Regions from separate parts of the Homo sapiens genome. Here region 1 is linked to region 2. The links come from fine-mapping of genetic effects on gene expression. A gene starts in region 2. The other region holds a variant in brackets. All regions are shown on one strand. Distances are from middle to middle. Region 1 overlaps TEK (TEK receptor tyrosine kinase). Region 2 holds the start of LRRC19 (leucine rich repeat containing 19).

What was found. PIP is the estimated chance that this variant, and not a neighbour inherited with it, causes the effect.
Region 1: its variant is fine-mapped to the expression of LRRC19 in lung (TOPMed, PIP above 0.99).

What each region holds. Positions count from the first base shown.
Region 1 is chr9:27,146,638-27,163,455 of GRCh38, forward strand. It overlaps TEK (TEK receptor tyrosine kinase), which reads left to right. Exons shown (of 23, transcript NM_000459.5): 2 at 11,194-11,505. Among named protein-coding and RNA genes, the nearest start is that of TEK, 46 kb to the left of the region's middle. The variant T/A (reference allele first, on the strand shown) is at 6,420.
Region 2 is chr9:26,997,254-27,014,071 of GRCh38, forward strand. It overlaps LRRC19 (leucine rich repeat containing 19), which reads right to left and starts at 8,419. Exons shown (of 5, transcript NM_022901.3): 1 at 8,339-8,419; 2 at 2,361-2,450; 3 at 475-988. The coding sequence starts at 2,441. It overlaps IFT74 (intraflagellar transport 74), which reads left to right. Exons shown (of 20, transcript NM_025103.4): 9 at 11,767-11,905; 10 at 14,653-14,715.

The DNA.
Region 1 (16,818 bases), 150 kb after region 2:
TTATGTATTTATCCACTGAAGGATATTTGGGTGCTTCCAGTTTGGGGTGATTATGAATAAATAGAGCTGCTATAAACATTCTATTTTTTTTTTTTTTTTTTTTGGCGGGGGGGACGGAGTCTTGCTCTGTCTCCCAGGCTGGAGTGCAGTGGCGTGACCTCGGCTCACTGCAAGCTCCGCCTCCCGGGTTCACGCCATTCTCCTGCCTCAGCCTCTCGAGTAGCTGGGACTACAGGTGCCCACCACCACGCCCGGCTAATTTTTTGTATTTTTAGTAGAGACGGGGTTTCACCGTGTTAGCCAGGATGGTCTTGATCTCCTGACCTTGTGATCTGCCCGCCTCGGCCTCCCAAAGTGCTGGGATTACAGGCGTGAGACACTGCGCCCGGCCAACATTCATTGTATGAATGTACATTTTCATTTCTGAAGGGTAAATGCCTACAAGTGGGATTGTTGGGTGATACGTAAGTGTATGTTTAACTTTATAAGAAATTGTTAAACCAATTTCCACAGTGGCTATACCACCCATTTTAAATTACTTCCATCAATGGATGAGAATTGCAGTTCCTACACATTCTCTTTAGCACTGGGTATTATCAGGTTTTCTTTTTTCTTTCTTCTTTTTTTGTTTTTTGATCTGTTCTAATAGGTTTGTAGCAGTATCTCATTGTGGTTTCACTTAGCATTTCCATAATGTTTAATGATATTAAACATCTTTTGTGCTTATTTGCCATCTATACATTTTCTCTGGTGAAGTGTCTCAAATCTTTTGCTCATTTAAAAAAATTGAGTTGTTTTCTTACTGTTGAGTTTTGAGAGCTTTTTATGCATTCTAGATGCAAGTCATTTGCCAGATATGTGATTAGCAAATATTTTCTCCCAGTTCATGGTTTGTCCTTTTATTTTCTTAACAATGTCTTCCATAGACTAAAGTTTTAAATCTTAATAAAATTTAGCGTAACAATTTCTTTTTTATTCATGGTGTCTATGACAGCTAATTTTTGGTGTCATAGCTAACAATCACTTTCTAACTCCAGTGTCATGAAGATTTTCTTCTATATACCTAAAGTTTTGTATTTTAATGTTTTACACGATGTATTTTTAGTGAATTTTTGTATACATGGGTGGTTTTAGGTTAGGGCTCTTTTTTTGCATATTGATGTCCAAGTGTTCCAGTATTATTTGTTGAAAACAACTTCATTGAATTGTTAGACATTTTTGACGTGAGATGGTGTAATATAGTTTAATTGTTGAAAGAATGGAGTGAAACCAGTCCACCTAAATTTCAGTCTCAGCTCTGCTACAAATTAGCTGTGTAACAATCACCAAGTATTTAATCTTTCTTTGTCATAGTCTCCTTTTCTGTTAAATGGAAACAGTCATAGTACCTACTGCCTAGATTGCTATGAGGATTGAGTTATTATGTGTTGACACACTTAGAGTAGTACCTGACATAATAAGTGATGAATTAGGGTTAGCTTTTATATAACTTTTCAGTTATTGTAGATATTGCGAGCACGTCCTGTAAACATGTTTTACTAATTACACTGCCCATCAACAATATAGATGTTTCTATTCAACAGCCAGCACCAGATATTATGACCCTCTCCATTCTTTGACAATTTGATAGGCAAATAATGAGATGTCTTTTTAGTTTGTATTTTGAGATCTGTGGTCAGGTTAAACATCTTTTCAACTTTTCACATGTTGTGAGTATATCAGCTTTTGATGAGTAACAAGGCATCCAAAACATAATGGTAAAACAGCAAACATTTATTATGACTTATGCTTCTGTATGTCATCTGGGAAACTCTTTGGCTTAAGCTGGATTGGTCTCTCATCCTCTAGCGGGTTAGTCTTGGCGTCTCCTCATGATGGCCTCAGGGTTCCATAGAGCAGCAGCAAGAGTGCAAGCCCAGTGGGAGAGCCCAGTGGGCAAGCACTTTTCAAGCCTCTGCTTATGCCACATTGGCTAATCCTCCATTGATCAAAAGAAGTCCCATGGCCAAGCCTAGATTCAAGAGATGGAGAAAGAAACTCCACTTCTTGATGGAATGAAATGCAAAATATTGTGACCACTTTTTCATGAATCTACTGCGACTGGCTGTTTGTGTTTCCTTCTCTGTGAATTGCTATTGGTTCAACGACTTATGAAATTTCTTTATATGTTATACATATTAACTCCTTAAGTTTTACATGTAACATACGTTTTACATGTAACAGTATTTTTCTACTTGGTCATTTAACTTCATTTATATAATCTTTTGCTGTATAGAAGGTTTTGGCTTTTTCTGTGATAAAATCTATCAGTGTTTTTTCTTCATGACATTGGATGGCCAGAATGTAAGCTTTTTGAAGGCAGAAACCATATTTTATTTTTTATTATTTTCTTGACCCACAGAAAGCAGCACAGAGCCCAGCCCATAGTAATAAAGGTTTATTGAATGAATGCATTCACTGAAGGCCAATCTCACTCACTCATTTATTTATTTATTCATTCATCAATGTTTATGGAATACCTATTATAAACCAGGCATTGTGCTCATTGTTAGAGATACAGCGATGGGCAAAATTGACTTTTAGATGGTGTTTAGACTAAAGCATGGTAGGTAGTAATGGAACTTATTATCAATGAGACATAGGTTCAAATTGTATCTTTCTACTTATGTGACCTTGGGCATATCCCTAAACATTCCTGAATTTCAGGGTTTTTTAACCTATAAAATTGAGTGTAAATGCTTTCCTTCAATAGTGTGAGAATTCAAGTGGACAATGTTTGTAAAGCACTTAGCATTGTGTTTATTATGTATTATATAATAAAAATTGTCAGCTTCCTTTTCTACATGGTATAATCTCAGGCCTACTAGGAAGGCTAGGTGACTTCTTTTGTCAATCTCCTCTTAGCAAATATAATCCTGAATTTCTTCCATTATAGACTCGTTTCTTTGATTTGCTCCTCCAATCGTTCTCCGTGAATTGTCACTTTGAGCAATTCTTGCTTATTCTCCTCTTTGTGCAGGCAAGTCAGTCAAATTGCCTTCTCTGTTGGGAGCAGAAGAACAGGGCACTGAGGAGACACTGAATTTTGTTCAGTGCTGTCTTGGAAGATAGATATGCTTGGTTGTGGGTGTGGGTATGTACGTCTTTGAGCAGCATAAGGGTAGTTGGGAACTTGGCAGGTAATTGAATCAGGAGAAGAGCCCAGAAAAAGGTGGTCTGGTTCCAAAGATGCATTTTTCCCATACCGGGTATCCTGGTGCTGATAAACACAGTGCATTTAGAGAGCATCCCACTCCTGAGACAAAGTGAGTAGGGAAGATGATGAGGCAGCACTGCCAGGCTTAAGGGAATCTGTAAGGTGGCCAAAACTCCTCTCTAGATATTCTCAATTTCTCTGTCCTGTACCCTTTCTAGCTTTTTAGCCACCTCTCCTCAAAATCTTTTTTCTCTTCCCCCAATTTCTACCAAACTCCAGGATTCTCCAGGCGCCCTCCTGCCAGATGTATATACATTCCATATTCCCTCACACTAAGGACTTGGCTGTTAACACTGCTACTCTGGGGTGACAGAAAGGGCCCTGGAGAGAAATCAGCACTTGAGGGCTGGCTCTACCACTACCCTTTGTGCAATCACCAACTGGTCTCTTTTCTATATGCCTCAGATTGCCTGTTATAAAGTGTAAGGCTTGGCCAGGCATGTTGGCTTATGCCTGTAATCCCAGCATTTTGGGAGGCCAAGGCAGGAGCTTCACTTGAGCCCAGAGGTTCGAGACCAGCCTAGGCAACACAGTGATACCCCCATCTCTACAAAAAATTTAAAGATTAGCTGGGGGGAGGGGTGTTGCATGCCTGTAGTTCTGGCTATTCAGGAGGCTGAGGTGGGAGGATAACTTGAGCCCTTGAGTTCGAGGCTGCAGTGAGCAGTGACTGTGCCACTGCACTGCAGCCTGGGTGACAAGAGTGAGACACTGTCTCAAAAAAATAAGGTGTGAGGCTTGCACCAAGCAGTCTGTAAAACCTCTTCCGGTGTAAACAATCCTTGATTTGATGGAACCATGCTTCCTGCACCCCCACTGCCTCACAGAATGGAGTTTGCATATAAATGAATGTTCAGTAAAGTCTCGTTGTGTGGATGCTCTGTCTGTTCCCTGGAAATAAAAAGTTTCCTGCCAGCTGACTGATCCTCATTCTAACTAACACATGTGTTATTTGGCCTAGATGGAAAATTTCCGGCGTTTGAAGGTGGCGAGAGGATGTCATTCCCTCCAGCAGACAGACAAGGGTGCCATTTGGCTGGAAAGCAGGGATGGGAAACGGGCATGGCCTTTGGGGAAACTGGCTTGGTACAACTCCTGGGTGAGCACAGGAGTTTGTTGTTAGAGAGTCACAGCCCAGTCACATCCAGGATGCCCCTGGATAACTCTGAACTCCCAGCTATACAATAAAAATGTTAGCAACTTCCTTTAGTTATTTCCAGTCTTGTATATTTTGGTATCTTCTTGTTAGCTGCCCAATATCTTCTTGGAAGGAATCTTGAGGAAGAAGTTATTGCTCAGAGACTTACTACATACACAAAAGGAAGACAGAGAATAAAAAAGGATTAAAGTGTTGGAAACATGCCTGGGAACTGGATTTCTTCATGGGAGACAAGAAGGCAGAAAAGATACTGAAAATACTTTAACATAAGGGTTGACACAGAGGAATAGTGCTGGTAGTTCTTAGGGCCCAACAGAAAGAAATTAATAGCAACTTTAAGATAGAGAAAGAACATTCTAGAATTGAGTCCTACTAAAAACTCATTTTTGAAAAATGAGTAACTACTGCTCAGTAGTTACCATTTTGGGGAAGATTTTTCTGATTATCTTCTCATCTCTCTCTTGCTTTGCCTGGCTAACCCCAACTTTCCTTTAGACTAAAAGTCCACAAACCCTCCTTCAAAACAGTCAAGTCTGATAAAGTTTACCATTATGGTGTCTCATAAGCATCTTGTAATTCTCTCTCTTAGTACCTGTCTGTATTTATGTGTTTATGTGATTAGTTTTCCATGTCTGTCTCCTACATTTGCCTATAAGCTACGAGACGGTTGTATATTCACTGCTGTGTCTCCAGGGCCAAGTGCAGTACTGGGCACAGGGGAAGCATGCAATAAGTCTGCGTGGTAAGTGAATGAATGGACACATAAACAACTTAATGAGTGCTTTTTGAACTGAAGATAATTTTTCTTTTTCAGGACAGCAAAAACAAAAAACCTAAACTAAAATCCAAACAATTTCGCAAAATATCCTGGATAGTTTGGGAGTTGTCTTTGCTTCTTTGGCTCATTGCCACGGCCTTAATTCCAGAAATGCTTTTGACTCAGACCTTTTCAGTTCATTGCCAGTTCCCTGATTTCTGAAATGCCTTTGGCCAAGGAAGTGCTAATTGGTATTTCAAATATTTAGAACTTTAAGATACCTACTTCTGTTACAAAGATGAAATTACCATGAACACCTTTTGAAAAATTTAACCATAGCTAATACCAAATTTCCAAAAAACCATACAGTGACCATACAGTTAGTTGTTCTGAAGACATGACGCATTATTCCAAACACACCTTAGCAGAATTCCACCCAATACTACAATTCTGAGGTAGTAAGAAGCACAAGGGAATAAGCCTGCGATGCAATAATTTAATCTGCCTAAAATTGTCTCCTAGCTTGCCAACACTTCGAAGATCAGGGAACTGGGTAAATCAGGACTTGATTTCATCTGCAGCTGTATGTGAACTGGAATGTGGAAAAAAAAAAAAAAGCTAATTGGAGCAAGCATGTTGTGCTGCAGTGGAGTGTATTTTCATTGATATGTTTAACCTTTCATCCCCTTCATCTGTGAAAAAATGAAAATTGCTGACCTTTGAGGTTTTATGTTTTTAATTAAGCAAAATTTTTTTCTTTCAAATAAAATCTTATATGAAGCCCCCCCGCCGCAAAAAAATAAAATAAAATAAAGTTGAGTAGCTCACTGGGAGTGGGTGAGGGTGTGGGTCTAGAGTCCATTCTGTTGATTTCACCTCTTCCACTCTCAGAAACTTCTGGAGCACCTTTTTAGAACATGAGAAATTACAGTTTCTTTAAACACAGTTTAACATGGCTCTGTCTCTAATTTCTAATGTAATTAAATTCTATAATATGGGTGTTGATTCAGGCCCACAATAATTTCCATAACTATTTTTAAATAAAAATATTCCCATGTCTTAGTTAATGGCTCATTATTCATAGCAATATTGAATACAAGAAAATGTAAATATAAAAACTAGAGTTAAACAACATTTTGAGTTCACCATAATAAGATTTAGTGAGAAGACGCTACTAAGAAAGATTAGATACTGTTCAATATAGAACACAGAAAATACAGTGAGCAAAACATTTTAGAGGATTGTTA[T/A]GCTTCACTTGTGATGCTTGGTTGTTAACTTGGTAGACGTCATGCCACAATGCCAAGTAGTTCCTTATAAACAAGGACACACTTTTATGCAAACATTGAAAAAGTGTTTGAGGCTGGGCGCATGGCTCACACATGTAATCCCAGCACTTTGGGAGGCCGAGGCGGGTGGATCACGACGTCAGGAGTTCAAGACCAGCCTGGCCAACATGGTGAAACCCCGCCTCTACTAAAAATAGAAAAAAAATTAGCTGGGCGTGGTCGCGGGCACTTGTAATCCCAGCTACTCGAGAGGCTGAGGCAGGAGATTCTTTTGAACCCGGGAGGCGGAAGTTGCAGTGAGCCCAGATCGCACCATTGTACTCCAGCCTGGGCGACAGGGCGAGACTCCGTCTCAAAAAAAGAAAAAGTATTTGAGAGATCTTTGTTAAGGAAAAATAGCATTAATCTCTAAAACTTATAAGATGTATGATATTAAATATGCATCTTGTTTCAGCAAATTATTAGCCTTCATGATAGAAGTATGAATTAAACTATTAATGAATTTGATCAGAGCCTTTTAGATATGGTTGTGATGAAACAACTCACTATCCGTCCCCAACATGATTTGGAGAGGATAGCGCTATAATGTAAGAAAGGGTATTAAGCAGAGAGATTGATATTGGTATGAGCCCAGATAGGATCTGTCTTCTGGCAATGATTCTCAGGAAATGTCTCTATTAGAAAATGTCTTGAGTGGCACCAGATATGCAGTGGCAGCCATGCCTTTCATGGTGTCAGCAGCAGAACTCTTTCAAGAAGCCACGGACCACAGTTGTACTCGTTGTCGTGGAGCCTCTGCTCTATTCTTTCTGAAAGGCTGTTTGGCTACTTTTTTTTTCAGCATTAAGTTTTAACTCCTTTATTTTTCAGCATTGTGAGATAACATCACATTTCCTATTATTAGTTCAAAGAAGAGAGAAAGAGAAAAATGCATTATTTGGATGTAATTTGAAATTTGGAGTAGATATAGGGCTGAAGGATGAGACATAAAGGGACATATATGTCCATGGCTCTTGATTCTTTTCCAGCTGCCATTTTTTTCTCTCTCTCTTTCTGTCTCTCTTTTATTTATTTATTTATTTTTATTACACTTTAAGTTCTTGGATACATGTGCAGAACGTGCAGGTCTGTTACATAGGTATACACATGCCATGGTGGCTTGCTGCACCCATCAACCTGTCATCTACATTAGGTATTTCTCCTAAGGCTATCCCTCCCTGACCTCAGGTGATCCGCCTGCCTCAATCTCCCAAAGTGCTGGAATTACAGGCATGAGCCACCGCGCCCAGCCTCCAGCTGCCCCTTTTTAAGAAATGGGCCATAACACTTTTTTTTACGTTTAATTTTTATGTGTGAATAATAGTCAAATTGTTCAAAAGCCAGTACACACAAGCATATAGGGAAAAGTCTTCCTTTTACCATTGTGCCCCAACTACCCAGTTCCCCCGAATAGGTCATCGTTGTTCTTCTTTTTATGTGTCACCTTCTAGAAATTCTTTAGGCAGATACTAGCAAATACAACTATAGATTCTCATTTTAAGAAAACTAAGCAGGTGATTTTCAAGACTCATCCTAGGAAGCTGGTAGGTATGTCTTCTTATACCCAAAGCTCACATAGAAGATCCTTCTGGTACTGTAAATGGGGTTACAAAGGACAGAGTACTGGCTGGTGGAAGAGGTCTTCCTTAACCGGCATGCTGAACAAGGGTAGCGAAGTATAGTCAAGTCCAGACTCCCAGAGGCCACAATTTCCTTTTCCGTCACTGAAAGTAAAGGGAGATCTCTGAAAGGAGCAAGAGGAAAAAGAAACTAGATACATACCTAGAAATAATTTATACATAGCTTGGTTGTCTTTTCAAATCAACTGCATTTTGTATTATTTCCTAAAGCTATTAAATAAACCACGGCCACTGCCACCGCTGGGAGCTCAGAGCAGATCCTGTGGTTTTGGCAAGACTCTTGACTGGCCCTAGAAATGGGGCTGGATTGAACTGGAGTTGAAAGAATTACAGTGTTTCCTTCCTCTTGATGACTCTTTCTGGAACATGCCTGGAATGTGTGAGTGTGAGAGATGAAGTGGTGTTCACTCAGAGTCAGGCCTGGGTATGTACGTGGAAGGGGAGGTGTGTGCTGGTGTTATTTTTGGAGGCTGTAATTCCACTGTTAGGCTTTGTAGCTCGTCGTCTCTTTCAATGTTTTTACTATCCTAACTTGTATTCTCTGTCCTGAGATCTTAAAAGTTACCAATGAGGCTAGAAGTAAAATGGATGCTTCAAGGCCAGGCTTGGGAACTCATTCTAGTGGAGATTTTCTCCCTCAATCTCATGTAATGAGTTAATATTACAATAAAATGCAGGTGTAACTCCTGCTTACACGAAGACTTGACTTTGAAATTTTTCTTTCTAATCATTCAGATAAAGGTTTAATTTGTACCAAGATTATCCTCAAAACATCACTGAATACAGTAAACACTGGCAATTGCCATTAAAAACAAATTATATGAGGACTTTATATCAGGTACAATGCTTGACATAAGTAGGTGCTCAAAAATTCTGGTAAATGAATATTAGCCTTAAACGCTCAGCAGTCATTGGTCACTTTTCTTTGGCATTTTGTAAAAATTGTAATGTTTTTTTCCCCAAAACATTGGGAATAATGTTTTTTTGCCCCAAAACAGTTAAATATGGGCAAGGAGGTCAGTTCAGACTCGGGGGAGCACTTTTGTTTTTTTTTTTTTTTGAGACAGAATTTTGCTCTTTGTCGCCCAGTCTGGTGCGCAGCACTGGAACCTCTGCCTCCCGGGCTCAAATGATTCTCCTGTCTCAGCCTCCCGAGTAGCTGGGATTACAGGCACCCACCACCACACCCAGCTAATTTTTGTATTTTTAATAGAGACAACGTTTCACCATGTTGACCAGGCTGGTCTCAAACTCCTGACCTCAGGTGATCCCCCTGCCTCGGCCTCCCAAAGTGCTGGGATTGCAGGCATGAGCCACTGTGCCTGGCCCGCACTTTCATTTTTAACCTTATTATTCTAGAATTGGAAGCCGAGCAAATGGATGGACTTCAGTCAGGCAGATCTGAAATAAAATTTGCCCATCCATCCATCCCATTCATCCATACACTCATCCAACAAATACTTAAGTCCTCTATATGTTGAGATTACGGAGAATATTCCATTGTAAACCAATTCCTAAATTCCTCTTCCTATACAGAACATTTGGAGTTTATCATTTAGAGGGAGAGTAAATAAAATAATCACAAATTATGGTAATCTGTATGAATAAAACAGGAGGCCAAATTAGAGGTCAATGGGATGAGAGTGTATAGGTATTATAGATAAGGCAGGTAGAGAAGCCTTCTATGAGAAAGTGGCACTTAAGCTGAGACCCAAAGGACAAGCAGAAGGTGGCCATGCCAAGAGTGGAGAAAAACATTCCAGGCAGAAGGAACAGCAAAGGCTTTGAGGTAGGAAAGAGTATCTTGTATCCAAGGAATCAAAGACCAGTGAGCATTTGAATCCCAGCTCTGCCTTCAATAGCTGTGGAAAATGAAACTAGCTGCTCAATCTTTTGAGCCTTCATTTCTTCATATTTAAAATTGAGATAATGGTGCATACCTCACAGAGTTGCTGAATTTAATGGGTATTCAATAAGATAACATGTAGCTTATTTGAATCACTTCTACACAAAGGTCTCTGAGACTCTAGTTGGGCCCTCATCACTCAATTGATTTTTCTAGTCTCCTGATTGTTTTATGCACATTTGAGAGCCAACCATCACTGGAGCTAGAGAACATTTTCCATCCCTGATATTTCCACATTTAAAGAGGAGAGAATAGACACAGACTCTATCTGCTCATGTTAGAACCTTTAGAAATCAAAAAAGGGAGGGGTGGGGAGGGGAGAGAGAGAAAGAAAGAGAAATAGTGAGAAAATAACATGAGAGGATTTTCTTTTTAAAAGTGTACTTCCTCATTTACAGAACAAATTCATAAAATTTAAAGTTTGGGTAAGGTTTTGTTTTTGTTTTTACATTTGGGGAGAGGGTAAGGTTTGGGGCTAAGTGTTCAGGAAACAGAATAAAGAGAAATGAAATAATAATCACTGAGTATGCAATATATAACAGACAGAGTGGTTGGCAAGTTATGTATTTTATCTTATTTAATCTTTACAAGAATCCTGATGGAGTAAATGAGGCCCTGAGGGAAATGAAGACTTCACTTAGTCACTGTCTGTCACTTATCTTGAGGTATTTAATGTGGAATTGTGCAATTCTTTAAAAATGAGAATCTATAAGGCATAAGTTTATGTAGTTGATATATTTCTTTAGAATACTTTATTATTGTGACAGTATCACATTAGCATCAATTGATAACTAATAGTTAAATGAATAATGATAATGTCATTATTATTAATTCATCTTAATACTACATACATTTCCTGAATACCCAGCTATGTCTAGTGCATGGCTTGTTGGGGGAATAATGGGTAGTCCATTGCAACTAGGGTATGCAGTGGGGCAGGAGAGGTTAGCAGGGTCTAGCTGATGAAGGGTCTTGATGCCTTGGTAAAGAGTTTTGGATTTTGTCCAGTGGAAGATAGGCACATGGTCAGAATAGCATTTTAGAAAGAATCCTCACACAACTTTAAGACAAGGCTTTGTGAGCACCAGTTTACCCAATGGGGTCATGTTAATAACCTTAGTCATACATTATTGTCTCTCTTTCCTTTTAGGAACTGTGGAAGGTGCCATGGACTTGATCTTGATCAATTCCCTACCTCTTGTATCTGATGCTGAAACATCTCTCACCTGCATTGCCTCTGGGTGGCGCCCCCATGAGCCCATCACCATAGGAAGGGACTTTGAAGCCTTAATGAACCAGCACCAGGATCCGCTGGAAGTTACTCAAGATGTGACCAGAGAATGGGCTAAAAAAGTTGTTTGGAAGAGAGAAAAGGCTAGTAAGATCAATGGTGCTTATTTCTGTGAAGGGCGAGTTCGAGGAGAGGCAATCAGGATACGAACCATGAAGATGCGTCAACAAGGTAACATGCCCCTAAGTTTTGGGCAGGTGAGGCCCACTGAGGAACACACACACCTTTTGTCTTGGCAGCTGCTCCCTCAGGGGCAGGGCATGCACTACCTGAATGTAGAGCTTGACGATCTTGCCTGTCTCTTTCCATGCATCACCGTGTCTGGTACATGGAATGTTAGAGATAAAGGAGACTACCCAGTCCAACCCCTTAACTAGATACTGTGCCTACTTTGTGAGATGAAATATTTCATATGTTCTAAGGGCATCATGGTACTTATGGATAGTTGACTGTTACATGTATGTAATATGAAAATCATAGCAATGAAAACAAGTGTTCATTGCCAAACTACTATTTTGAGCTTTCTTATTTGATTTTTCATGTGATACATTGCTTTGCTTGTCCCTAAATACCCTTAATGGAAGTTAATATTTTCAGGAGAAAATTAAATATAAATAAGAATTTTAGAAGGGGAATATCCATCAGTAACTTAATTTAATTAGTTATTTGGTATATCAACTTTCTTTTCCTTTTTTTTTTTTTTTGGGGGGGTGGAGTCTCACTCTGTCACCGGACTAGAGTGCAGTGGCATGATTTTGGCTCACTGCAACCTCCGCCTCCCGGGTTCAAGCGATTCTTCTGCCTCAGCCTCCCAAGTAGCTGGGATTACAGGCAAGCACCACCACACCCAGCTAATTTTTTATATTTTTAGTAGAGACAGGGTGTCACCATATTGGCCAGGACGATCTTGATCTGTAGACCTCGTGATCTGCCCGCCATGGCCTCCCAAAGTGTTGGGATTACAGGCGTGAGCCACCATGCCCGGCCAGTGTATCAATTTTCTATTGCCACAATAATGCTGTGTAACATAACCACAAACCACAGTGGCATACAATAATGAGCATTTATAGCTTGTGAGTCTAAGTCAGCTGTGTTGATTAGATGGATGTATTGACCTTGGTTGGGATTCCTTACATATATGGTGTTGCCTGGCTATAGGCTTAGTAGGCTGGCCTTGGCTGGGGCAACTTTGCTCAGTTCCTTATACTATAGCAGGCTAAGGTAGTATAAGGTCATAGTGTACAATTCTCAGCTTAGGTTGCCAGGAGCCTCATGTGTTTCTATTTTTTTGTACCACTGCCATCTACATTTCATGTACATGAGATGTAGACATGAGGCTCTTTGCAACCTAGGCTCAGAATTGTACACTATCACTTCTGCTTCATTTTATCAACCTAAGCCAGTTAAGTAGCTGAGCCTAGTATCAGAGTGAGAGGGCACTACAAACTGAAATGACAAAGAGTCAGGGATACAGGGAGGGATGAAGAATTAGGGCCCTCTTTGCAGGCTACCATTTTTGGAAAAGGACCATGATTTAATTTTAGCAGTCGAGTACCCAGGTCCAGCTCAGAAAACACCAGAATTTTGCCGGAGGATTTTGAAAGCCTCCTCTAAGGGAGGATTATTAAGACTTGCTACCACCCCACAAGGTGATGATGTGATGAAGTCTTCCTCCCAAAATAAAAGTGGGCCTTAAGCTAAATCTTTAGACCAGTCCACCTGTGTGATGGCAGTTGAAGGAGATGGTGTTGCAAATATTATTTAATAATTGTATTATAAGGTTCCAGTCCTGGACAGGCAGGCAGACTTCTGGTGCTCTTGATGCTGTCTGCTGGGAGGAAGGTACAGAATTCCAGCTAAGGTGACCTCTCTTTGTTCTGCCTGGAATGATCTGGCCTCTCCCCTATCAGCCACTTTGTCTGGGCTGCTGATTCCTAAAATGAAGGAGTCTTTTCCAAATTAGTATCATCACAACCACAGGAGCTGTGGACTGAGGACTTGTCATTACATAAAATAATGACATTGTCAGCTGTTTAGGGTTTTTTTTTTTTTTTTTTTTTTTTTTTTTTAAAGACAAGGGTCTTGCTGTTGCCCAGGCTGGAGTGCAGTGGCACAATTACAGTTCACTGCAGCCTTGACCTCCCGGGCTCATGCTGTTCTCCCACCTCAGCCTCCCAAGTAGCTGGGACTACAGGCATGCACCACCATGCCTGGCTAATTAAACGAATTTTTCATAGATATGGGGGTCCTGCTTTGCTGCCTAGGCTGGTCTTGAACTACTAGCTTCAAGCCATCCTCCCACTATGGCCTCTCAAAGTGCTGGGATTATAGGTGTGAGCCCACCAGGCCTGACTTTTAGAAAGCTGATCCAGTTAAGTAACACACCTCTGCACATTGCTGATTGGCTGTTTCTTTTATAATCTAACCATCTGTAGTCTGCATTTTTTTTAGATCAATGCTTTTTAAAGTTGAACATGCTTACAGATCACCTGTAGTTCTTGTAAACATGCAGACTCTGATTTAATAGGTTGTTTGGGACAGTCCTGGGATTATGCAGTTCTACCCAGGTCCCAGGTGATGAGAATCTGCTCGACCATGGACCACGCTTTGAGTAGCAGTTTAGAGTTAGCCTCTAACTTGGGTCCAGCTGAAAATATTTCTTTGAATTTACTAATGGTAGTAATGAAAAGATTTGAAGGCAGCAAACTCATTTTAAGGTCAAAAGTAATAAAATTGCTGTTCATTCCAAATGAAGGAAAGGGTTTTCTTAGCAAAACTAGAATGTTCACCTTTAAATGACAGCAGGGCAAGTGGGAAAAGTGCACAACAGAAATTCCCAGGAATGCAGCTCTCCGTTGAGGGAAGAGAGGTTGAACAAAGGGATGTGAGGTGTGCCAAAGCTATCATGGCTGAAAGTCAGCTCTATTATTTTTCACATGTGTCATTTTGGATTTGACTTGTATAAAGACTAATATTCTTCTGCTGATGTTTCCACATTCTAAAGGAAGATGATCTGAGATTATGCCCCAGTCATTTCGTGGGAACAAAATGTGAAGTGCCACTGTGTCCTTGCTGTACTGTCCTGAGGTCATCCTTGACAATGTATAAATAAGAACATGTAAAGCAAACTGGACCAGAACATTGGGAGTTAAAAACCCGCTGTAATGATCCCCCCAAACTGAGAGGCTAGGTGATCACAGGTAAAGGATGGCTTAACTTCAGTTAAATAAGGCAAAGGCAGACCTGGATAGTGAGAAACACTAACGAGAAGATGGCTTTTAGAATTATGCTCACTTGAGTTTTAATTCGTTCTCCATCACTCACCAGCTGTGTGGCCTTTGGCAAGTTATTTAACTTCTATTGGTCTCATTTATCATCATCTGTGAAATGGGTATAATAATACCTACAAAATTGTTTTGTTTTAAATAAGTTGGTATATACAAGAAGCATCGATTTACACAGTGAACGTTGTCCCTAAAAGCTTAGGTAAAGCAATATATTGCAGAATAAGGTACATAGTAATAAGAATAATAGCAGCTTGTAAATGGTGGGAATGGCATTTGATGCCGAGTGATCTGACTTCAGAGCCAGTATTTATTACCACTACGCTACCCTTTGGATATCATTCTCACTTAATGTTAGCAACTCTCCCTGATTCTGAGCTCTTGTTTTATAAAGTACAATGATCCTACCTGAAGTCCTAAAAAGCAACCCAGGGCACAGAGTAGAGGTATGAGAGTGGAAGTCAGACAGATATGGGTTCGAGTCTACCTCTGCAACTGAGTGGTGTGGCTCAGGACAAGTTACTTAATTGAAGTCATATTTTTTCCTCATGTGAAAAAAAATAAGGATAGAGATTTTATCACACATATTTGGAAATTAAATGAGGCACTTAACTATTACCAATTACATTATCTGCTTCACAGTAAATGTTTAACAACTGATTATTGTAATTTCTTTGAGTAATAGGTGAGATAATTTTCCGACTCAATTGTAGAAATTTTTACTATGCATTCACATATTATGGAGTTTTACACAAAATGGAAAAATAGGTATGTTCTCTCCTGTATTTTAACAATAACAGCATCTCAGGCTGATGAACAGGTTCTGTTTTTCTTGCTGACCATCCAGTGGGGGAAATCTGGTTTGAGGAAAGTGAAATCCTTTATGATGAATCAGGAAAAACCTCCAAAACTATGTTTTCATGTCACTATTAATTCGTTATTAAAACATCATGGAAACTCAGAAATGCCTGCCTAGGGACACAGCAGGATAAAATAAACATCAATATATTCCTGCTTGCTGCTGACTCGTACATCTGTGGAGGAAGTGGAAAATCCATTTGAGATGTGCCAAAACACAGCTTAAATTGGCTCACACACTCCAAACAGACAAACTGGATTTTATCAATGGCATCATCCAAAATAGTCAACAGCAGTTTGACTCAAACCTCCTTGGTGATTTCATTTGGGGGTAGGAAATTATATATAAAGTTTGAAACGTTTTCAGATCCAAAGACCTGTTTCAAACTGATCCATTAGAAGAAACAGAGGGTTATTTTATTCCTACTTTCATTTGAGAAATAGCTTTATATTAAGAATATCAAACTTCCCAAACATAATTTACGAAGTTGTTAGAGAAGAGCCATTTGCACCTAAATAACCAAAGGAATATGTTAAAAGCATCAAGAAAATGGGAAAATCTGAAACAGTTTAGTTCATTTATACTTTCATTCCACAATTTTTCTTTTCTTTTTTTTTTTTAGACGGAGTCTTGCTCTGTCACCCAGGCTGGAGTGCAGTGGCGCGATCTCGGCTCACTGCAACCTCTGCCTCCTGGGTTCAAGTGATTCTCCTGCCTCAGCCTCCCGAGCAGCTGGGACTACAGGTGCGCACCACCATGCCCAGCTTGTTTTCGTATTTTTAGTAGAGACAGGGCTTTACCATGTTGGCCGGGGTGGTCTCCATCTCCCGACCTTGTGATCCACCCACCTCAGCCTCCTAAAGTGCTGGGATTACAGGCGTGAGCCAGTGCGCCCAGCCACCACAATTATTCTTGAGCCTCTATTTTTGCCACATGTTTTCCTGAATACTTGTATGCCTGACATTCCCCTAGCAACTTCATATGTATTACTAACTTAGTCTTTATCAAATATATATCAGATGAGGACTTTTAAGACCCCACTAATAATAGATGAGGCTTGGCTATTGTAACTTAACGTGCATTTACTAGCTAGTGAGTGTTGGATCTGGGAAGGTGAAGTCAGGCCCGATTCTAGAAGCCTGGCTTTAACCATCACCCTGTGCTACCTTTCAAAACAGATGTGATCTTGCCCTCCTGGAACACCCAATCTAGTAGGGGATATATACCATGAGTGGGGCTATAATGAAAAAATGCAGGGTATTTAGGGAGTAGCTATGAGGGCATCTAACCTGTGTTCCAGGTGTTGTGTGAGGTCTCTGAAAATTCCTAAATGGAAACTGA
Region 2 (16,818 bases):
GGAAGGAGAGCATCTATGCAGCTGTTACTTTTTAGTGTTTCTTCCTGTTTTGCTTAAACAGAAATTGTTTCCTTTCCTTTTTTTTTTTTTTTTTTTTTGAGACAGAGTCTCACTCTGTTGCCCAGGCTGGAGTGCAGTGGCACGATCTCGGCTCACTGTAACATCTGCCTCCCAGGTTCAAGCAATTCTCCCACCTCAGCCTCCTGAGTACCTGGTACTACAGGCATGCGCCACCATACCCAGCTAATTTTTGTATTTTTAGCAGAGATGGGGTTTCACCATGTTGGCCAGGCTGGTCTCAAACTCCTGACCTCAGGTGATCCCCCTGCCTTGGCCTCCCATAGTGATGGGATTACAGGCATGAGCCACTGCGCCTGGCTGCTTCCTTTTCTTTAAAACGTGATATGAGAGATTTTTCTGTGGTGGAACATTGAGTTAATCACATTTTGGTTTTGCTTAATTATGATAGCTTACCTAATGTCACATTTGATGTGTTCAACCAGTTCTGCAAATTAAATAGACTGCAAGAGCAGTTCCATAGGTTTCCATATAAAGTTATTAATTCCAGATGAAATAGTGGTGGTACATCCAAATAGCTAATCAAATTGCCTTGCAGATTCAGAAGTTTTAGGCTTCTTAGAGGCACAAATACATCAGCATTCAGTTGTTCTATTTTGTTTTGGCAGAGATATAACTGTTTTAGTTTATTTAAGCCTAAAAATGCACCCTGTTGAATTACATAGATGGAGTTTCTACAGATATTTAAAATTTCTAGACTGGAGAGGTTACCAAAACCGTTATTATGTAAGATAGTAACCTTGTTCTCAATCAAATAGAGCTCTGTGAGTAAAAAGTATGTCTGTAGAACTCTTGTGTCTGTACCATTAAGAGTAATTTGGTTATAACTGAGATCAAGTATAGTAACATCTTTCTTGATATCTGCTGGAATCAAGGTATAATTTTTTTCAGTAAAATTACATTGGACTTCCTAGAAAAACAAAAAAAAGAAAGGCATTAATCAGAAAAAAAATTAATAGAATTTCACCAAATTTCATATTTAAGCACTTAGACATTAGAAGGACGTTATTTTGGGAAAAAAACCTACTATCTAATATTTTGGTGTTACAGTAGAGCAAATCTTTTTCTTTATTGGGATGAAATACTAAAAATTAAGGATATTCTGATACATACAATTGAACAAAGAGATTCCAATTTGTCATACGGGTATTTTCCAACTGTTATTACATGATCATTACAGAAAGTAATGCTACTGGAATATTCCCATTTATATATGTGGAAATGTATGGTAAATAATAATTCTGTTAACATTTAATATTCCAGTGTGCACAATTGCTTTATAGTGAGGAAATTATTTTAAACTATATGTGTTTTTAAAATCAGCAGAGCTAACAACATTATACCTAGGGCTGTTCAATAATTAATAAATGGGCTGGGCATGGTGGCTCACGCCTGTAATCCCAGCACTTTGGGAGGCTGAGGCAGGCGGGTTACCTGAGGTCAGGAGTTCAAGACCAGCCTGTCCAACACAGTGAAACCCTGTCTCTACTGAAAATACAAAAAAAAAAAAAAGTCAGCCGGGCATGGTGGCAAGCACCTGTAATCCCAGCTACTTGGGAGGCTGAGGCAGGATAATCGCTTCAACCCAGGAGGCGGAGGTTGCAGTGAGCTGAGATCATGCCATTACACTCCAGCCTGGGCGACAGAGCGAGATTCCGTCTCAAAAGCAAGCAATCAATCAATCAGTCTGAATAAACTCTCTGGTTTAACTCTCTTAAACTCTCTGGGTTTAACAGCTCAAAGTTTGGTGTTTTAAAAGGAAATATTTATCTTTTATCAGAAATGGAGCCAGGTATTGAATTTAAAGAGCCACACAATCTGAAATTCTTTATGTGGATATAGATGGAAAGAAAGAAATAGTTCTTGTTTTTACTGAACAGTAAACTAAGAATAAATAGAACTAAGAATAGTTCTGGTTTATTACTGTTTTTGCAGTTAGATTTTTTCACCAATAATAATTCAATAGCAGTTTCTCTCATAAATATGTGCTTTTTAAAAAAAAGTTTCCTACATTTTAAACAAGATTTTACTCTTAAAACTAATTTCTGATTTTATAGTGAAAATTTTCAGATCTCTCCCTTTAATCAACTTTTAAAGAACTCAGTTTTTATAAATGAAGGCTGCTTTTGTCAAATTGGAATTTGGATATACAGAGCTAAATAAACTCTTAATTTTAGTAGGTCAGATTTTCTTTGCTTTCTTATTGCCCTTTTATATTTTACTAAATATACAGAAAATGTACCTTTGAAAATATTTTTACTATTTTGATTGTAAAAACTTACTCTTTTAGAAGACTGGATTTTGTCTGATAATAATATCATGGAGAGGGGCCAAAAGAGGATTGTGATGCCTGTGACTTTCATGTTGCAGACCTGATAGAAAAGAGAGTATTTTCATTAAGGACATTTTTATTTTTCCCTCTTTTGAATCTGTTTATTCTTTTTTTTTTTTTTTTTTTTTGGCTGAGACAGGGTCTCACTCTGTCACACAGACCTGGTGGCATGGTCACAGCTCACTGCAGCCTTGATCTCCCAGGCTTAAGCAGTCCTCCCAACTCAGCTTCCTAAGTAGCTGAAACACAAGCATGCACTACCATGCCTGGCTAATTTTAAAAATTTTTGTAGAGATGGGGTCACCATGTGTTACTCAGCCTGGTATCAAACTCCTGGGTGCGAGCCATTTCCCCCCAGCCACTGGCGTGGCCTTGAAAAGTGCTGGGATTATAGATATGAGCCACTTACCCTGGCCTTTCAAATCTACTTTTTCTTGAAATACATAAAATGTGAAACAAGTGCATGGCCATTCACCATCCTTGCACTCTGATCTTAATAAACTAGAAAGCCCCTTTGAAGAATGAGACTGATTTCTATTTTTTCTTTTTAGAGAAAATTAATATTTTTAAGTGTGTCTCATTAGTTTCTAGATCTCATGAAAGGAGCTTTAAAGCAATTTAAGTGGTTGTAAATTTTAAAAATTTAATATAGAAGTGCACAAAAGAAATTCAGGAAAACGTATATTTATGCATGTTTAAGTATATGCTTATATTGATGGTCTTGATTTTTTCAATTTTAGGCATTATCTATTGGCATTATCTATCTATTATTCTTGACTTAAAACTGTGGGAGATGAGAATCTTTAGCACTCTTTTTCCCCCCATGGTAACTTTTAAAAATTTTATTGAGGCGTGGTAGATATACATAGTTTTGGGGTACATGTGATAAAGTAGTGCATTCATATAATTTTTAAAGATCAAATTAATGTACTTGGGATATCCAACACGTTAAATATTTGTCTTTTCTTTATAATGGAAACATTCAAATTCTCTTCTAGCTGTTTTTAAATGTACAGTAAATTAGACGAGAGGGAGAGCATCAGAAAATAGCTAATGGATGCTGGGCTTAATACCTAGGTGACGGGTTGATCTGTGCAGCAAACCACCGTGGCACATGTTTACCTATGTAACAAACCTGCATAACCTGCACATGTACCCCGGAACTTAAAAATAAAAGTTGAAGGAAAAAAATTACTGTAAACTATAATTACCCTACTGATCTAACACTAGGCCTTCTTTTTTTAAGCAAACTGTATGTTTGTATGCATTAATAAACTTTTCTGCATTCCTCCCTCCCTACCACCCTTTCCAGCCTCTGGTAACCACTAGTCTACTCTTAATCTATATGAGGTCCACTTTTTTAGCTCCCACATGCCGGTGAGAATGTGTGATATTTGTCTTTCTGTGCTTGGCTTATTTCACTTGACATAATGACCTCCGGTTCCGTTTTTGTTGCCGCAAATGACAGGATTTCATTTGTTTTTATGGCTGAATAATATTCCATTGTATATATATGCTACTTTTTTTTAATCCATTCATCTGTTGATGGGCACTTAGGTTGATTCCATAGTTTTGCTCTTGTGAATAGTCCTCCAATACACATGGGAGTGCAGCTATCTCTTTAATATATTCATCTCTTTTTTTTAAATGTATACCCAGTGGAATTACTGGATCAAATGTAAATGTAAGTGTTATATTTTTAGTTTTTTAAGGAACCTTCATACTGCTCTCCAGAGTGGCTATACTAATTTACATTCCCAAGAGTGTATGAGGGTTCCCCTTTCTCCACATCGTCACCAGCATCCGTTATTGCCTGTCATATTGATAGAAGCTACTTTAATGGGGGTGAGATTATATATCATTGTAGTTTTGATTTGCATTTCCCTGAGTGATTACTGATGTTGAGCATTTTTTCCACATACTTGTTTGTCTTTTGTGTGTTTTTTGAGAAATATCTATTCAGTTCTTTTGCCATGTTTACTTGGATTATTTGTTTTTTATCGGTTTGTTTTTGGCTAGTGAGCTGTTTGAGCTCTTTATATCTTCTGATTATTAACCCCTTTTTAGATGGGTAGTTTGCAAATATTTTCTCATTCCGTGGGTTGTCTCTTCACTTTTTTGATCATTTTCTTTGCTGTGCACAAGCTTTTTTGCTTGGCGAAACCCCATTTGTACATTTTTGCTTTGGTTTCCTGTGCTTTTGAGGTCTTAGAGACACAAAAAAATCTTTGTCCAGGCCAGTGTTCTAGAGCAATTCTCCAACGTTTTCTTTTTTTCTCTTTTTTTTTTTTAAATAAAGAAAAGAGGTTTAATTGACTCAGTTCCACAGGCTGTACAGGATGCACGTCTGGGGGGTCCTCAGGAAACTTACAATCATGGTGGAAGGTGAAGGGGAAGCAGGCATGTCTTACATGGCTAGAGAAGGAGGAAGAAAGAGCAGAGGGAGGAGCTACACACTTTTAAACAACCAGATCTTTTTTTCTTTTGAGACAGAGTCTGGCTCTGTTGCCCAGGCTGGAGTGCAGTGATGCCATTTTGGCTCACTGCAACCTCTGCCTCCTGGGTTCAAGTGATTCTCATGCCTCAGCCTCCTGAGTAGCTGGGACTACAGGCATGTGCCACTTTCATGCGGGTCCATGTGAAGAGACCACCAAACAGGCTTTGTGTGAGCAACATGGCTGTTTATTTCACCTGGGTGAAGGTGGGCTGAGTCCGAAAAGAGAGTCAGCCCTCCAGTGTTTTCTTGAAACAGTTTTATAGTTTGAGGTCTTATTAAAGTCTTTAATCCATTTTTATTCCTGGATATGGCAAGAGATAGGGGTCTGGTTTCATTTTTCCATATATAGTTATGCAGTTTTTCTAGCACCATTTATTGAAACAACTATTATTTCTCCATTTTATGTTCTTGGCACCTTTGTTGAAGATGAGTTGATGTAAATGTGTGTATTTATATCTGAGTTCTCTATTCCATTCCATTGGTCTATGGATCTGTCTTGATGCCAGTACCATGCTGATTTGGTTACTATAGCTTTGTAGAAAATTTTGAAGTCAGGTAGTGTGATGCCTCCAGCTTTGTTCCTTTTTGCTGAGGGTTGTTTTAGCTATTTGGGATCTTTTATGGTTCCATATGAATTTTAGGATTTTTTTTTCTACTTCTATGAAGAGCGTCACTGTATTTTGATAGGAATTGCATTGAATCAGTAAATTGCTTTGGTTAGTATTGATATTTTAGCAATGTTCTTCCACTCCATGAACATGGATTATATTTCCATTTTTTTTTGTATCCTCTTCAGTTTCTTTCATCAGTGTTTTACAGTTTTTGTTATATAGATATTTCACTTCATTGGTTAAATTGATTCCAAGGTATTTTATATTCTTTGTAGCTATCGTAAACAGGCTTGCTTTCTTGATTTCTTTTTCAGATTCTTCACTGTTGGCATATCTAAATTCTACCAATTTTTATATGATGATTTTATATCTTGCAACTTTACTGAATTCAGTTGTCAGTTTTTACAGATTTTTTGTGGAGTATTTAGGGTTTGTTTTTTTTTTAATTTTTTAAGTGTAAGATCATGTCTGCCAGGTGCAGTGGCTCACGCCTGTAATCCCAGCACTTTGGGAGGCCGAGGCGGGCAGATCACCTGAGGTCAGGAGTTTGAGACCAGCCTGGCCAACATGGCGAAACCTCATCTCTACTACAATTACAAAAATTAGCCGGGTGCAGTGGCAGGCACCTGTAATCCCAGCTACTTGGGAGGCTGAGGCAGCAGAATTGTTTGAACCTGGGAGGCAGAAGTTGCAGTGAGCCGTGATCATGCCACTGTGCTCCAGCCTGGGTGACAGAGTGAGACTCTGTCTCAGAAAAAAAAAAGAAAAACTAATCAGAGTAGGCAAGAATCCATGCAGCATACTAAAGTCTCTCGCCTCGTTAGCAATAAGGAATTTACTGCTATTTTAGTGCTAGTCTGTTCTAGTCAACTTCCTCATTGCCTTTGATTTGTTGATCCATTTATGCACATTCCCCTTCTACCTTTTCTCTTTCCATAGTTAAATGAAATTTGTTAGGAAAAGCTACTCTGCCTCCTATATTTTATAAAATTTGGATGTAGATCATAATAGAATCCCTTTTAGAGCCAGAAGTGCATTTAAACTATCACTTATTCAAGATGATTGCCCATAGAAGAGGGATGCCTAAATCATTTACAAAAGGTAGTTTACCTATGTTTAATGATTTATAGGAATAGGTGTTCAGCTCCTTCAATGGCTTGTTTCAGTATTTCTCAATGATGTGGTGAAATTCTTACTGATGTCTCTAGTAGGCTGCAGAGGTGACTGAGGAGAGGTGGGTAAGGGAAGTGCTGTTTTTTTTCCAGAAACAAATAGGATGGGGATAGTGAAAGAAAGCAAATAGGCTACAAAGAAAATGAACTAGATTTAAGTTAAAAGTTGATATGAAATAGAAGCAGGTGAAAAAAGTAATGGAGGCAAGACAGGACTGTGAGCTTATGTGGAAATGGAGACGGAGTATGGTTTTATATTTATTATCTGTATCTGCTATTTAATGCTAATAATTGTTTTCTCAAGTGCGCTAAAAGAAAAAAATCATAAGGATTAGAAAAGGATTTTTTTTCCTTTCCATTGGATAGATCTTGGAAGCAGTGTATACTCAGCTCAAGGTAGATTCTGTACAAGAAAGCATTCAACAAATCTAAAGCATCGTTAGGTCTGAAGCTGTGAAATACATTGATTGATCCATACTATCTGTGAGAGTTTTCACATATTTGTGTGCCTTTTCAGAGGAGAAAGATTGAAAGAGGGGGTGATGTCGATTATCATGACACTGAGTAAGTCCCCAGACAAAGCATTTGCTAGCATTATTGGGTGTCTTTAAAAAAAGAAAATCAGATACGCAGAATAGCTGGCCAAGTAGATTATGCAGAAATTATCCATCAGTCAGTTTAGCCTGTTTCAACAGTTGGTTTAAAAGGAAGTCAGTCATTGTTGCTTTCTTTCTCCTTTTGGAATATTTTCTAATTTGGATTTTTTTTGAAATGATAGTTGAGTTTCATATAGTGATTACTTAGGAGCTAATATAAAATAGAAAACTGGAATAGAAGATGGAATATCAGTTTCTTTTGTTATTTCACAAAATTACGTGCATTTTTACCTAGCATATGATCTACGTTACTGAAAAAAAAAGAGCTTTACTCAAAGGAAATGGTAGATACTGAAAAAGAAGCATTGTTCTTAATAAAGTTTCAAGTACATGTTTCTTAAGTTATTTACTTTATATGATTATTATATGCTATGAAATAAAGAGATGCTGTAATTATTTTGGTTTTGTTAAAATCTAAATGTAGTTTTTCCATTAAGTATTTTAGATATTTATGCCAGAATTCAATGTATTTAGAGAATGATGTTAATAATACACAATTAACTTTGTTTCCTTATTTAACTATTGTGTAGATTTTTTTCAGATTTAAAACCTTTTTGTAATGGAAAATTTCAAGGAAAAAACCTAAGTAAGAAGAATAGTTATCAGCCTGCTTCAATAATCATCAACTCATGGCCAGTCTTTTTTTTATCTTGCCAATTGGCTTTTAGATTAGTGTCACTTCAGAATGCTCTGTGATTAACATATTTTAAAATAAAAATTCTTATAAATTTGATTGGCTAGATGAAACCATTTCCCCCCCCGCCCCCCGCAAAACAATTACTTAGTATTGTATTCTAACTTTATTTAGGAAAGACCCTTTGGCCATGTCTCAGGTATATAGTATTTTTGAGGTAGACCATGTGAAAATATAATCATATTTTCTTATTTTTCATCACTTCTTAAAGGCAAAGATGGTTGTACAGACTTAACAAACTTAAATATGATTAAAAAAAATACAACAATAACCAAAGCTATAAATATACATATCTTACCTTTTTTTCTTTTGTCTCTAAGACTTGTGTGCTAAAGGAAATTAACTCTGTTTCAACGGCATTAAAAAAAGTACATCGTATGATTACATTTCACTTTGTTTTAACCTTTGTACCCAGTGAACAGGTGATTTAAAAAAAAAAACTAGACTTCCTTAGCAAAAGATTGACTAGAAGAATAATTTCTTAAAGTCATCTTTTCCTTTTTTAGTATAACAAGTAAGGCTGTTTGCCTAACCTTTGTGTTTCTTTCTTTTTTTTCTTTTTTTGAGATGAAGTCTCGCTCTGTCATTCAGGCTGGAGTGCAGTGGCATGATCTCGGCTCAATGCAACCTCCACCTCCTGGGTTCAAGCAGTTCTCCTCCCTGCCTCAGCCTCCTGAGTAGCTGGGATTACAGGCTCCCGGCACTGCACCTGGCTAATTTTTGTATTTTTAGTAGAGATGCGGTTTCACCATGTTGGCCAGGCTGGTCTCAAACTCCTGACCTCAGGTGATACCCCTGCCTCAGCCTCCCAAAGTGCTGGGATTACAAGTGTGAGCCACTGCACCCAGCCTACCTTTGTGTTTCTTAATTACTCTTTGAAAATTTTATTAAAGTATTAACAATTTTACTTACTGATTTAGAGTTTACAATATTGAAAATGCATACTTTTGAAAGATATACTGTTGCTAAATTAATTTATGTTTGTCCTGATGGTATTTTGTGCTTAGAAGCATTCAAACTGAGGTCAGGTGCAGAGTCTGACACCTGTAATCCCAGCACTTTGAGAAGCTAAGATGAGAGAATAATTTGAACTCAGGAATTTGAGACCAGCCCGGCCAACTTAGCAAGACCTTGTCTCTACTCAAAATAAAAAGTAAAAACATTAGCAGGGCATGGTGTTGTGTGCCTTTAGTCCCAGTTACCTGGGTGGCTGAGGTGGGGGGATGGCTTGAGTTTGAGCATGCAGTGAGCCATGATTGTGCTACCACAGTCTAGTCTGGGTGACAAGTGGTACCTGTCAAGAAAGAAAGACAGAAAGAGGGAGAGGGAAAGAGAGAGAGAGAGAGAAGAGAAGAGAGAGGAGGGGGAGGGGAAGGAGGAGGAGGAGGAAGGGAAGGAGGCAGGGAGGGAGGAAAAGGAAGGAAGGAAAGGAGAGAGAGAGAAAAGAAAGGAGGTAGGGAGGGATTCAAATTGTAAAGATACCACCAAGTTTTGTATTCTATTGAGTTTCAACGTTTTTGTTTACTTATTATTGTGTGTTTTTTTTTTTTTTTTTTTTTTTGAGATGGAGTCTCGCTCTGTCACCCAGGCTGGAGTGTAGTGGCGCAGTCTCGGCTCACTGCAAGCTCTGCCTCCCGGGTTGACGCCATTCTCCTGCCTCAGCCTCCCAAGTAGCTGGGACTACAGGCGCCCACCATCACGCCCAGCTAATTTTTTTGTATTTTTAGTAGAGACGGGGTTTCACCATGTTAGCAAGGATGGTCTCGATCTCCTGACCTCGTGATCTGCCCGCCTCGGCCTCCTAAAGTGCTGGGATTACAGGCATGAGCCACCATGCCCAGCCTGTTTACTTACTTTTATGACACCATCATCAGTGGTTTTACTGCCAAGTTATAACAGGAGCAAAGTACTCAAAGCATCAAAAAGACCTTACACCTGGACATCATATGGCCTTTAGAAAGTCAGTTACTTTTCTTATGCTGTAATTTCTCCTCTGTAAAATGGAATACTTTATAACATTAGTTCTCATCTTCCTACATTGAAAGAAGAAACACTGTTGGTAGTCAGTAATCAAATTTAGAATGAATTCCTTCCAAAAGATTAATTCCACTGGGCTTCAGTATCCTTAATTTATGAAAATAGATACTTTCCTTTCAATTTCTTTGAGCTCATATACCTATACAAATTGTAGCAGCAGGAAACACATTTGTTTTACTGTTGTAATTGAAGCTCCAAGTGAAGATACCACTTCTTCTCCAACAGTGAAACAAAAATAAATTGAAATTCCAGGTTGCTTTACTATGTTCATCTTTTATTTGGTTATTTTGAGATTTTTTTTGGTAGGGAAATTTCTGAGTTTAGGTTGTTTATTCTAGTAGTAGGATATGAATGTGTAGAAGGTGTGTAGGGGATATGTGGATCCACAAGCTTAGCTGGTGATTGTGAAAACTATAGAAGTTGGTATCTATGAGCGAAAGAGAGTAAATAGTGATAGGTTAATCAGATTTTGAAACTCAAAATAGAAATTAATGATCTTGGGAGTGAAAATGTGTGTTCAATCCAGCTTTTTATAAAATGTAAATCTTGAAAGTATTTAGATAAGTGGCATCTTACCTATTCTTTTTTCAGAGTTTTTCTCTACCCTATCAATAATTGACCTTGCCTAGGCAACAAGTGACATGTCATTGGTATTTCTTTTGATTACGTGATAAAAATGGTTATTGCTTCTAATTAATTTCACTATTACTACTTTTATAGGATTATGTTTGTAATGTTTATTGTGTTTTTAGAGAAATGAGCTTAATATTTTACAATGCTAAAAAATAGCAAAAATTTGTGAAATAGCAATGTTAACTAAAGCAGTAAGTAAAAGAGAACTTAAGCAAAGCATATTATTAATCTAAAGCCATAACTAAAAAATCAAATTGCACTGCAGGCCTCTCTACTCCCTAGTTCTGTCAGAGCCACACTGGATGATTTACACGGGAAACTTCTATACAGTATTTAATTTAGTCAGAAAAACTTATGGCTAAAGGATGCTTTAAAACCACAATTCTAAAACTTATTTGTCTTTTTTTTTTTTGAGATGGAGTTTTGCTCTTTTGCCCAGGCTAGAGTGAAGTGGCGCGATCTCAGCCCACTGCAACCTCTTCCCCACTGGGTTCAAGCGATTCTCCTGCCTCAGCCTCCCAAGTAGCTGGGATTACAGGTGCCCGCCACCACGTGTGGCTAATTTTTGTACTTTTAGTAGAGATGGGTGTTTTGTCGTGTTGCCCAGGCTGGTCTCGACCTCCAGACCTCAGGTGATCCACCTGCCTCAGCCTTCCAAAGTGCTGGGATTACAGACGTGAGCCACCGAGCGCAGCCTCTTATTTGTCTTTTGAAGGTATAACTTTAAAAAAGTATAAATGCATCCTCATATATATAAGTCATTAAGGATTTTTTGGTAATCTTTGTGATTTCTTAGTAAAATAAAATGGAGAGTAAGGAAATAGAGGAATTTAGGGATGGAGAAGAGAAAGATGTAAAAATAAGTTTGTGCTAATGGGGCCAAATTTTATATAGGTCAAATAGCATTTTTTAGTACAAATATAAAGACTTTTCAGTCACACACTGTGGTTGAATGTCTTTAAGTATCCTATTAAATTAGGACCATGACTTGTATAAAATAATTGGATATTTTTTCCTCAATATAGTATCAGGAATATTACGTGCTTCTGATTTTAGGAAAGAAAAACAAATCAGAAGTGTCGAAGAAGAAATTGAACAGGAAAAACAAGCAACAGATGACATTATCAAAAATATGTCTTTTGAAAACCAAGTCAAGTACCTAGAGATGAAAACCACAAATGAGAAACTGTTACAGGTAATACAAATTACTGCTGTGTGCCAAGCATGTATCATTCTTGCTACTAAAAGTATAGTTTGAATATCAGCAGCATCAGCATCCCCTGAGAACTTGACTATACTTTGAGATCAGTTTTCATTTTAACAAGGTCCCCATCTGATTCATACGTATATTCACATTTCAGAAGAATTTATTTAGAAAACTTCATTTTCATCTGCTGTTTGATGACCTAGCTTTTACTCTTATTATTTTTGGTTTACTTCTATTTATTCATTTTGCATTTCATAAAGACATGAAAATACTCGCATTTATAAAAATACTTGTCTATAAATATTTGCATTTATAAAAGTACTTTTCTATAAATGTTTGCATTGATAAAAATACTTGTCTGTAAATTAAAAAGTCTGTAAATACTTGCAGTTACAGACTTTTAATGCAAACATTAAAAGGCCTCATAGGTGGAGGTTGCAGTAGTGAGCTGAGATTGCACCACTGCATTCCAGCCTGGGCAACAGAGCGAGACTCTGTCTCAAAAAAAAAAAGGCCTCATAGACCAGATCCATATATATATTTACTTTCCTTTTCCTTCCTGCTTAATAAACAGCTAACCTTTTTACCTGTTAGCATTATGATTTGAATGGCTATTGTCCTGTAATTATATTGCCTAAATTTCCATTTTTAAAAATTAATTTTTTTATTGATACACAATTGTACATATTTATGGGGTACATGTGATATTTCCATGCACGTATGCAATGTATAATGATCAAATCGGGATAATTAGGATATTCATCACCTCAAACATTTGGCATTTTTTTTGTGCTGGAAACATTTTTTTTTTTTTAATTTAAAAAAAATTTTTTTTTTGAGACGGAGTCTCGCTCTGTCGCCCAGGCTGGAGTGCAGTGCCCATCTCGGCTCACTGCAAGCTACGCCTCCCGGGTTCATGCCATTCTCCTGCCTCAGCCTCCCAAGTAGTTGGCACTACAGGCGCCCGCCACCACGCCCGGCTGATTTTTTGTATTTTTTTAGTAGGGACGGGGTTTCACCGTGTTAGTCAGGATGGTCTTGATCGCCTGACCTCGTGATCCGCCTGCCTCGGCCTCCCAAAGTGCTGGTATTACAGGCATGAGCCACCGCGCCCGGCCTTATGCTAGAAACATTTTGAATCTCCTTTTCTGGCTATTTTGAAACATACAATTAATTACTGATAACTATAGCCACCCTAGTGTTCTATCAAACATGAGAATTTATTCCTTCTCTCCCCCACACCACCCCATGCCCCCAACTGGGCACCACCTTCTCAGCCTCTGGTAACCATCATTCTACTACCCCCTTTTTTTTGTTTTTTTTTTTTTGTTTTTTTTGAGACGGAGTTTCGCTCTGTCGCCCGGGCTGGAGTGCAGTGGCGCGATCTCGGCTCACTGGAAGCTCCGCCTCCCAGGTTCATGCCATGCTCCTGCCTCAGCCTCCTGAGTAGCTGGGACCACAGGTGCCCGCCACCACGCCTGGCCAATTTTTTATGTGTTTTTAGTAGAGACAGTGTTTCACCGTGTTAGCCAGGTGATCCGCCCCCCTCGGCTTCCCAAAGTGCTGGTATTACAGGCGTGAGCCACTGTGCCCGGCCGAGATCCACTTTTTTAGGCTCCTACAGATGAGTGAGAACATGCAATATTAAATAAGCAATTTAAGTCCCTGTTGAGGGCATATTGAGAATCCTCTCAATACTCAGTCATGGTGGTTCCCTTTCATGCCCAGATGGCCCTTAACTAAAGATTAAGCAAAGAATTAGGCCCCATAAATGCCAATAATGATTATAGTTTTAGTTTCTTAGACATTCCTTTGCTGACAATTTAGTAACCTTTTTATTTTAGAGAAGATTTCTAAGATACTGTGAAGCGTTGAAGAAAAAGTATGGCCTGGCCAAGATGGTGAAACCCTGTCTCTACTAAAAACACAAAAATTAGCCAGGCATGGTAGCAGGCCCCTGTAATCCCAGCTACTCGGGAGGCTGAGGCAGGTACTTGGTTGATCCCGGGAGGCGGAGGTTGCAGTGAGCCGAGATCATGCCACTGCACTCCAGCCTGGGCAACAGAGCGAGACTCTGTCTCAAAAAGAAAAAAGAAAGAGTATGATAGAAATGCCAAAATAGTACCAAAATATAGTTAATCTTGTATGGGATAATGAATGAGTAAACAGTTTAAGGATCTTATCTTAGGAGTGAACCATATTTATATTTACATATACGTGTATGTATGTGTACATGTGAACCATATTTATATTTACATATATGTGTATGTATGTGTGCATGTGTTATATGTGTGTGTACACAGTATAGAGAAATTAGGCAAAAGATGTGAAAACACGGTTACAAATCAAAATTTTAAATAATAATCTTAAACAATGACATAATTTGAAAGCTTCTGATATTTGATGTCTCAGAACATAGTGATGATTCAGTGTGAAAAGGTCTAAGGTCTAGCTACTTTTGAGAAACTCATGAAGTTTTTTTTTTTTTTTTTTGAAGGCACACAGCAAGTTTTTAAGAATAATGAAAGAAGTTGGGAAAAATAGAAATAATGAAGTGTTAATAAATTCTAGTCAAAATGTAAGATGCCAGTGAAGATATTTAGAAAATTTACTTAGTCACTTTGAAATGTTGAGAAACAGAGAAATAAATTTTTTTTCCCAGCTCCCTCCCCCCACTACAACAAATTATTCTTAATGTAATTTGGATTTATGTTTGCTTTTTTTTTTCCACTTAGGAATTAGATACACTTCAACAACAATTGGATTCACAGAACATGAAAAAAGAGAGCCTGGAAGCAGTAAGTATAAAATCAAATAAGGGTTCTCATACTACTCAGCTAAAAAAGTTAATTCAGCCAAGTATATTAATATAACTAATTCAACTACATATTGATCTGGCAGCTTACTAATAGGAGTTTAATACTTTTTCTTCCTATTCTGGACCCACAAAGATCCTAGTATGGTAAGAAATTAGATTCAGTTATTGAGTACCTACTATGTATAAAACAAATCATTCCGCCCTACCTAGGACATGCAAAATCCAATAGCAATTAAAAAAATTATTTTTTTAGAGACAGAGTCTTTCTTTGTCACTCAGGCTAGAGTGCGGTGACATGATCGTAGCTCACTGTAAATTCAAGCTCCTGGGCTCAAGCGATCCTCCCTCCTCAGGTTCCCAAGTAGCTAGGACTTCAGGCAGGAACCACCACACCTGGCTAATTTTTTTTTTACTTTTTGTAAAGACAGGGTCTCGTTATGGCTGATGTACAGCTCCTGGCCTCAAGCAATGCTCCTGCCTTGGCTTCCCAATGTGCTGGGATTACAGGCATGAGGCATTGTGCTCAGCCTCTAATGGCAATTTAAAGACACATACACAAGAGATTATAAAAACAAAGAAAGAGGGAGAGACATGAGTTCATCTCTTTAAGGATGTAAAAACTTACTTTTTTTATTCATTTATTTAAAACGCTTTATTTCACAAAACAAAATGTGCATATGGTTTAAAAATAGTTGAACAAGAGGAAAGTAAAAATGTCTGTTTTTTTTTTTTTTTTTTTTTTTTTTTAGACAGAGTATCGCTCTGTTGCCCAGGCTGGAGTGCAGTGGTGCGATCTCGGCTCACTGCAAGCTCCGCCTCCCAGGTTCACGCCATTCTCCTGCCTCAGCCTCCAGAGTAGCTGGGACTACAGGCACCCGCCACCACACCCAGCTAATTTTTTTGTATTTTTAGTAGAGATGGGATTTCACTGTATTAGCCAGGATGGTCTCGATCTCCTGACCTTGTGATCCGCCCACCTCGGCCTCCCAAAGTGCTGGGATTATAGGCGTGAGCCACTGCGCCCAGCCAAAATGTCTGTTTTGTGTCCTTCTTTCCAGATAGAACTACTGGAAAGACATTTATCAAGTGCTTACTGTATGCTTTTTTGAGCTGTAAACACATATCAGCATCATCTTCATGTAATCCCCACAAGAGTCCTAAATCCCATCTTGGTTTTACAGTTGTGGAAAACCTCAAGTGGGGTTCCTACGTGCTATGCTAGCTGCAGCTTTCTTTTTTCACCCTAACATTGTATCTACAGTGTCTATTTATATCAGTTCCTAGAGAACCTCCTCATTATTTTAAATTGCTACAATGTATTATGTTGTATAATTATAACACAGCCTTGTAAATGAACAGGTTGTTTATAGTTTTCCGGGATTATAAACAATACTCCTGTGAAAGCATACATTTTATGCGAAGTTATATCATAAGATTGAATTCTCACAATGGGTCAAAAGGTATACAGTTTAAAAATGTTGTCAGATTGCCAAATTGCCTTCAAAAAGGTTGTTCCAACTTTTACTTCTAGATGTAATGTATGTGAATGCTTATTTCCCCTGCATTCACTGACAGCAAATATTATCTGACTTTTCCAGTTTTAGCTATTTTGATAGGTAAAAATTACTACCTTATTTGAATTTTCATTTATTTATGAATAAAGTTGAGTATCTATTTATATCATTTTTGGCCAATGAATTTCTTTTTCTTTGAACTCCTTTTTCATATTTTTGGCGTTTCAGTATACTGTCTGTATCTCAAATCTTGCCTCCCTTTCCTGATTTCCTGTGGATTCAGGTAGACATCATGATGACAGTATTAGGAACTGTTGTAGACTGATAGATTGCTGACACCCTAGCTTGCAAAAGAAATGAGTATTTTGTAATTAATTCTTTTGAGAATTTGCTATTGAAAAAGTTATTTAATTAAAAATAGTAAGGTAGTTGGCTGGGCGTGGTGGCTCACGCCTGTAATCCCAGCACTTTGGGAGGCCAAGGCAGGCAGATCACAAGGTCAGGAGATCGAGACCATCCTTGCTAACGTGGTGAAAACCCGTCTTTACTAAAAATACAAAAAATTAGTC